Linked DNA regions of Homo sapiens. The protein of the gene in region 1 binds, or shares a complex with, the protein of each later gene. Each region holds a gene or a part of one and is shown on either strand. Other genes may lie near its edges.

Region 1 (3,805 bases):
ATGGCTTTTAGTATATTGACAGAGGTGTGTAACCATCATTACAATTAACTTTAGAGCTTTTTCATAATCACTAAAAGAAACCCATTAGCAGTCATTCCTCAACTCCCCCGTACCGTCCAGCCCTAGGCAACCATTGATCTACTTTCTATCTCTATGTGTTTGCCTACTCTGGATATTTCTTTTTTTTTTTTTTGAGACAGAGTTTTGCTCTTGTCACCCAGGCTGGAGTGCAATGGCGCAATCTTGGCTCACTGCAACCTCTGCCTCTCGGGTTCAGGCAATTCTCTTGCCTCAGCCTCTCGAGTAGCTGGGGTTACAGGCACACGCCACCATGCCCGGCTAATTTTGTATTTTTAGTAGGCATGGGGTTTCGCCATGCTGGCCAGGCTGGTCTCGAACTCCTGACCTCAGGTGATCCACCCGCCACGGCCTCCCAAAGTGCTGGGATTACAGGTGTAAGCCGCTGCGCCCGGCCCTCTGGGTATTTCATATAAATGGAATCATGCAGTAAATATACGGTCCTTTGTGACTGGCTTCTTTCACTCAGCACCAAGTGTTTTCAAAAGAACACCTTTTTTTCCCTAAGAGAGCAGAAAAAAAGATTATTTTAAAAATAAACAAATGAGTATTTTGGTTTCTAGGGTTTATGTTCTTTTATAGCAATCTGGCTTCCTATATAAATACTAAACACAAGCGTTCTTCTTCTCCCCTTTCTGCAACCCCGTTAAAAAAACAGTAAGAAAAAACATTAATAAACCCACAATGAAGAGAAAATGTGTGGAAGGGCCACTGGCAGAAAGGAAGTGTCAATCAATTTTCAGAAAATGGAGAGTGAACGGAAATAAGAGGACACACTGCCTTGAAATCTTGAAATCTTGAGGAGGAGTGCAGCCTCAGAGGGAGCAGATCTGTCCCAGGCAGCCCCAGGGAGATTCCAGATCCAGAGATGGCAGGTACCATGGGGAGTGGAGATGGCAACCAGGGAGCAAGACAAGGGCACAGGACAAACGCAAGTCCGATGCATGGACCAGCATGGCCTTTCCTTCCCCTATGCCATCCCAGTACAAAACTACCCCTGGCCAGGAAGTCACACCAGTTCAAAATGTTAAAAAACCCAGTAAACCAGGGTTACTGGGTGTGGTGGCTCACACCTGTAATCCTAGCACTTGGGGAGGTCGAGGCATAAGGATTGCTTGAGGCCAGGAATTGAGACCAGCTGGAGTAACATAGCGAGACTCCATCTCCATTTCTTTTTTTTCTGTTGAGAGAGGGCCTCACTCGGTCTCCCAGGCTGGAGTGCAGTGGCACAATCATGGCTCACTGCAGCCTCGACCTCCCAGGTTCAAACTATCTTCCTGCCTCAGCCCCTCAAGTAGGTGGGACAAGAGGTGCAAGCCATCATGCCTGGCTAATTTTTTTTTTTTCTGTAGTTTTTGTAGACACGGGGTTTCCTCATGTTGCCCAGGTTGGTCTTGAACTCCTGAGCTCAAGCAATCCACCTGCCTCAGCCTCCCAAAGTGCTGGGATCACAGGCATGAGCCAGTACGCCCAGCCCCCCATCTCTATTCCTTTAAAAAAAAAAAAAAAATGAGCCTGATGCAGTGGCTCACACCTGTAATCCCAGCACTTTGGGAGGCTGAGGTGGGAGGACTGATTGAGCCCAGGAGTTTGAGACCAGCCTGGGCAACTTAGGGAGACCACATCTCTACAAAAAATTAAAAAATTAGTAAGGTGTGGTGGCATGTGCCTGTGGTCCTAGCTACTCAGGAGGCTGAGGCTGGAGGATTGCTTGAGCCCAGGAGTTCAAGGCTACTGTGAGCTGTGTCTATGCCACTGCACTCCAGCCTGGGTGATAATTTGGATGTTGTTCTCTCTGAATCTCATGTTAAATTGTAATCCCCAATGTTGGAGGTGGGGCCTGGTGGGACGTGACCTGATCATGAAGGTGGATTTCTCACAGATGGTTTAACACCATTCCCTTGGTGCTGTCCTTGTGCAACAGTGAGTTCTCTTGAGATCTGGTTGTTTAAAAATGTGTGACACCTCCCCCACCTCTTTCTCTTGCTCGCACTCTTGCCATGTGAGACACCAGCTCCCCCTTTGCCTTCCACCATGATTGCAAGCAGCCCAAGGCCTCACCAGAAGCCGAGGAGATGCTGGTGCCATGCTTCCTGTACAGCCTGCAGAACTGTGAGCCAACTAAACCTCTTTTCTTTATAAATTACCCAGTGTTAGGTTATAGCAATGCAAGAATGGCCTAACACATTGGGTGATAAAGCAAGATCCTGTCTCAAAAAAAAAAAAAAAAAAAAAAGAGTTAAAACAGTGGGGGCAGGGTATCACTAAAGAAACACCATGGATTTCCTGCTGAGAACCAAGAGAGCTGGAAGGGGTGAGTATGTCAGTGCCTGAGAGAAAAGCCCTCCTCACACTGGCCCTGGGTGCACCCTTGTATATGGTCACTTCCTGCCCAGCTCCCCTGAGGTAGAACCTGCCCGTCAGTGGGCCCCATGTACAGACAGGGAGTTCTTTTTTTTTTTTTTTTTTTTTTCCCGAGACGGAGTCTTGCTCTGTTGCTCAGGTTGGAGTGCAGTGGCGTGATCTCAGCTCACTGCAACCTCTGCCTCCTGGGTTCAAGTGATTCTCTAGCCTCAGCCTCCTGAGTAGCTAGGATTACAGACACCCTCCACCACACCCGGCTATTTTTTGTATTTTTAGTAGAGATGGGGTTTTCCCATGTTGGCCAGGCTGGTCTTGAACTCCTGACCTCAGGTGATCCGCCTGCCTCAGCCTCCCAAAGTGCTGGGATTACAGGTGAAAGAGTTCTTATTAGCATTTCAGCTGCCTCACTTTGAAACATGACTGGATAACCAAGAATCACCAGTCATTTGTGGAAAGCCTGAAACATAAAGGAGAAAGACCAAGACAAGCACAAAGGAAACAGAAGAACTTCAAAACAAAACTAAACCTATTACTAAGTATCATCAAATAAATTTTAAAAGCCACTACATTAAAAGAAAAAAATAATTCTATGAAAAAAAGAACATTCAAAGAACAGGAAGGAGCTCTTGGAAATGACCAAAGCAAAAAAAATTCAAAAGGAACAAAATAAAATAATCAAGAAAATATAAGAGACACATAGGGTCCTTTTAAATAACTCAATTGCTAATTAATGCGTTGAGGAAGGAAAAAGAATGAGAGTAAATTTTCAAAGATACACAAGATAGGCTGGGCGCAGTGGCTCATGCCTATAATCCTAGCGCTTTGGGAGGCTGAAGAAGGAAGACTGCTTGAGCTCGGGAGTTTGAGACCAGCCTGGGCAACATGGTGACACCCGGTCTCCACAAAAAAAAAAATTAGTCAGGTGTGGTGGTGCATGCCTATAGTCGCAGCTACTCAGGAGGCTGAGATGGGAGGATTGCTTGAGCCTGAGGAGGTCAAGACTGCAGTGAGCCCTGATCATGCCACTGCACTACAACCTGGGTGACAGAGTGAGATCATCTCTCAGAAAGAAAAGAGAAGAGAAGAGAAGAGAAAGGGACGGGACGAGAAGGGAAGGAAGAAGGAGGGAAGGGAAGGGAGAAGGAGGGAGGGGAGGGAGGGATGCAGGGGATGGAAGGGGAGGGAGGAGGGAAGGGGAGGGAGAAGGAGGGAAGGGGAGAGAGGGAGGGGAGGGCAGGGAAGGGAGAAGGAGGGAGGGAGGGAGGAAAAGAAGATATTTTCCTTCAGCTGGATGCTGCAAGCCGCCATATTGTTTGGGCAAGAATGAAAACACTATATCCAAGGCTGGGCATGGTGGCTCATG
Region 2 (4,321 bases), on another chromosome or scaffold:
GATGGAAACCAGGCTCCTCACTGCACCCCATGAGGCCCTGCAGGTATAGCCCCTGACTACCTGTCTATCCTTCTCTCCCACGGCCCCATCTATGAATCGTTCAGTTCTCAAAATAATGAACTCCTCACCTTTCCCAGACACACCAGGCATGCCCACAGCAAGAAACGAGCTTCCACCTTTTCCCCTTCCAGGGACAGCCCATGAAGCTCCTCTGCTCATCCCTCTTTCCACCCCCAGCTCTACACTGACTGCAGCAGCCCGGCAGGGGGAAGTGGGACCAGATGGACTGACGGGTGGACGGATGGGTGGATGGATGAATGGATAGATGGACAGATGCATGTATGGATGCATAGATAGAAGGATGGATGGGTGGATGGCCAGATGAATAGATGGATGGGTGGATGGATGGATGATGGACGGAGAGATGTATGGGTGGATAGATGGATGAGTGGATGGATGTATGAATGGATAAATGGGAACACATAAATGGATGGATGGATGGATGGATGGATGGACGGACGGATGCATGGATGGATGGATGGATGGATGGATGGATGGACGGATAGATGAGTGGGTGGCCAGATAAATAGATGGATGGGTGGACAGATGGATGAGTGGAAGGATGGGGGGAGCAGATGGATGAATGGATGGGCGGACAGATGGATGAACGGAAGTGTGGATGGATAGATGGAAGGATAGATGGGTGGATGGCCAGATGGATAGACGGGTGGGGGACAGATGGATGGATGGGCAGATGAACGGTTGAAGCAGCCCGGCCGAAATGCGGGAGAAATGGGGGGAAGCCCTGCAGAACGCATCGGCCCCTTCTTGACCTCGGCGGGCCTTAGCTTCCCCTCTGAACAAAGCGGGCGTGTGACCCTCTGCGCACCCCTAAACCGTGCACTCACCCGCTCAGGCCTCAGTTTCCCCCACTGTCCAGCGGGGGTGGGGTCCCGGGCTGGGAGCCACGCGAACGCCCCCACGGTCCTCTCTTCTCGGCCGCCTCCTGCCGGGTCCCCGACCGCACCCCCTCCCGTAGGGCACGGGTCACGTGACTCGAAGCCCACCTCCTCCCGGGGAGGGGCCGGGCCTCGGGGACCCAGCGCCGGAGCGTCGCCGGGCAACAGTGCCCGCCTGGTCTTCGCCTCCCAGCAGGGGCCCGGCCCCGCCCACTGGGCGGACGCCCCGCCTCCGAATCGATCACGTGAGGGGGCCGCAGCGCTCGAACAATCCCGCCCTCTCGTTGCCGTGACAACCGCCTTGTAGGCACACTCTTCTTAAATCCGGGCCCTTGGTCCCCCGCGCGGGCGCGGGTGGATCTCTCGGGCTCTGACTTGTTTTCGGGTCACCTTCAGGCTTCAGCCAGGCACCTGACGCCTCTTTCCCCTCACGGTGCCAGGGCCGGGCCGAACTACATTTCCCAGGAGGCTCCGCGGCCAGGTGCAAACAGCGCCGTGCTGACTACATTTCCCAGACAGCCTTGCGGCGGCCCGGGCCTTAAAGCGTCCATTTCCCAGCGGCCCTCCGCTGCGAGACCGCAGCCCTTCTCTGGAGTCTCAGAGCCGCAAGACACCACGACTCCCAGAGGACCTTGCGTCGGGCAAGAAAGACTACACCTTCCAGAGGCCTCTGCGGCGCCGCGACAGGAAGCGGCGGGCGAGCCGAGTGTCCTTGCGCGTGGATCCGAGCGACCATGGTGGCCCGGGTGTGGTCGCTGATGAGGTGCGTGGGGGCGCCGGAGGGGACCCGAGTCCCCGAAAAAGTCCATTTTTGTGGGCATCCCTGTCTCCAGTCTGGTCCCGATCTGCTCTTCGCTTCCCTTAGAGTCACTTCCCCTTCGTTCCCCGCCTATGGGCCAGATAGGGAAACTGAGGCTTCAGAGGGGCGGGGCTTCCCGAGGTCGCCAATCCCCTCCCTCCTGCTTCCCAGCGAGCCCTTGGCGTTCAGTTCGCGGTGTCAGCCTCCGCCTCCGAGCCTCAGTTGTCTTCTCTGTGAGGTGGGAATGCCGGTGAATCCTGCCGCTGGCGTGGATGAGAAGTGAATGCGTGCTCGGAGCTGCGAGTGACAGCGGGCAGGAGGCGCCCAGGGACACTTGGTTTCTCCAGGGCTGGAAGGCTTCTAGAAGGTCAAGATCTTACGTCTTCACTGCCCCTGCTCACTGTGGGACTTTGAGTGACCCACTCTCCCCCTCTGGGTTTCAGTTCATCAGTTCAAGTGGCGTCCAGCCGCCCTGCCTTGCACGTTGTAAAACGAGTGCTGTATATAATAGGGGTCTGGGTCGACGGTGCTGCACTACAGAGTGTCACCCTGTGGACGGTGAGCCCTCAGGAGGGTCTCACTCTCCCCGTGGGCCTTGGCCCCTGAGGGTGGCTGTCAGTGTCCGCTGAGCTTCTGCTCCTCCCGTCCCTGCCCGCAGGTTCCTCATCAAGGGAAGTGTGGCTGGGGGCGCCGTCTACCTGGTGTACGACCAGGAGCTGCTGGGGCCCAGCGACAAGAGCCAGGCAGCCCTACAGAAGGCTGGGGAGGTGGTCCCCCCCGCCATGTACCAGTTCAGCCAGTACGTGTGTCAGCAGACAGGCCTGCAGATACCCCAGGTACTACGGGCCGGGAACGAGGCCAGGGTTTGGCGGGTGGTCAGCTCTGGGAGGTCCCTCCAGCCCTGCACGATGTTGTCCTCCATATTGATGCTGACCTGATTCTCCGGCCTGTCCTCCTCCCTCCGCCTCTGGGGATGGGCTGCTGAGCCTTTTCACCAGTTCTTTCTGCCCATCTCTTTTTCCCAGCTCCCAGCCCCTCCAAAGATTTACTTTCCCATCCGTGACTCCTGGAATGCAGGTAAGGCACCCAGTTTCTTTGCTTGGAGGGAGACACCCCAGTCTAGCCCCTCTCCCCACTTCCTGGCCATTCCTTTCTGTCCATCCTCCTTCCTGCCCGACACGTGTCTCTTAGGGATCTAAAAGGGAAAGGAGGCCGAGCACAGTGGCTCACGCCTGTAATCCCAGCACTTTGGGAGGCTGAGGTGGGCGGATCATCTGAAGTCAGGAGTTCGAGACCAGCCTGGGCAACATGGTGAAACCCCATCTCTACTAAAAATACAAAAATTAACCGTGCGTGGTGGTGCACACCTGTAATCCCAGCTGCTGCTTGAGAGGCTGAAGCAGGAGAATTGCTTGAACCCAGGAGGCAGAGGTTGCAGTGAGCCGAGGTTGCACCACTGCACTCCAGCCTGGGCGACAGGGCGAGACTCCATCTCAAAAAAATAAAATACAAAAATTAGCCTGGTATGGTGGCGCACTTGTAGTCCCAGCTACTTGGGAGGCTGAGGCAAGAGAATCGCTTGAACCCAGGAGGCGAAGGTTGCAGTGAGCCGAGATTGCACTACTGCACTCCAGCCTGGGAGACAGAGTGAGACTCCATCCCCGCCCCCCACCCACCCCCCACCGCCCAAAACAAACTCTAGAGTTTCCCAGGGGTTGGAGGCTGGGTGAGGCTGGGAGGGGAGTATCACCAGTGGCCGTCCCTTTCCCACAGGCATCATGACGGTGATGTCAGCTCTGTCGGTGGCCCCCTCCAAGGCCCGCGAGTACTCCAAGGAGGGCTGGGAGTATGTGAAGGCGCGCACCAAGTAGCGAGTCAGCAGGGGCCGCCTGCCCCGGCCAGAACGGGCAGGGCTGCCACTGACCTGAAGACTCCGGACTGGGACCCCACTCCGAGGGCAGCTCCCGGCCTTGCCGGCCCAATAAAGGACTTCAGAAGTGTTCCCTGACCCGTGTGCTGGCCCCAGGGAGCACAGGGTTGGCCTGGTGGTGCCCAGAGCACCGAGGCCTGGGCTTCTGGCTCCTGATGGCTTGTCAGGGCTTGACCTTGACCACAGGCCATAGCACTCCCCTTTGCCGTCTGCTCTGGTGCGGGGAGTCAGAGGTCAGAGCGGCTGCTCCCGGTGCTCCAGAGGCTGTGCTCTGGGGCCAGGAAAGTGCTTTGGCCAAGCCTGGGTTGTGGAGGGTCTTGGTTTTGGAGGGCTGAGACCAGGGTAGGACAGTGGAAGAGCCAGAGTGGATAGAAGTGGGGTCTGCTTCCCTGCGGGACACAGGGCAGGAGCCCCCAGGGCCACTGGTTCCTGCCCTCCTCAGCTCCTGTCCGCAGTCCTGTCCCGGCCCTTCCTTGGCCGGACTCCACCCTCATTCCACCCTCTCCCGACAACCCTAGCAGGGGAATCCTGGTCATTGAAGGAAATCCAGGTGTTTGTTGCCATTCAGAGGGTCTCCCGGACATTGCCTCTCCCCTGGGACGCCTTCCCTGACACCCCTGCCGCACACTGGCC

The links.
Region 2: APOO (region 1) and MICOS13 share a complex: the UniProt entries of both Homo sapiens proteins name them as parts of the mitochondrial contact site and cristae organizing system (MICOS) complex.

Annotation. Positions count from the first base shown.
Region 1 is NC_000023.11:23,859,268-23,863,072, forward strand, and holds part of APOO (MICOS complex subunit MIC26 precursor), read right to left. Parts: intron 1-3,805. UniProt on the Homo sapiens protein: Component of the MICOS complex, a large protein complex of the mitochondrial inner membrane that plays crucial roles in the maintenance of crista junctions, inner membrane architecture, and formation of contact sites to the outer membrane.
Region 2 is NC_000019.10:5,677,859-5,682,179, reverse strand, and holds MICOS13 (MICOS complex subunit MIC13 isoform 2 precursor), read left to right. Parts: upstream 1-1,663; 5' UTR 1,664-1,693; coding exon 1,694-1,722; intron 1,723-1,929; exon of another isoform or gene 1,930-2,030; coding exon of another isoform or gene 2,031-2,125; intron 2,126-2,416; coding exon 2,417-2,594; intron 2,595-2,783; coding exon 2,784-2,835; intron 2,836-2,949; coding exon of another isoform or gene 2,950-2,957; exon of another isoform or gene 2,958-3,282; intron 3,283-3,531; coding exon 3,532-3,629; 3' UTR 3,630-3,758; downstream 3,759-4,321. UniProt on the Homo sapiens protein: Component of the MICOS complex, a large protein complex of the mitochondrial inner membrane that plays crucial roles in the maintenance of crista junctions, inner membrane architecture, and formation of contact sites to the outer membrane.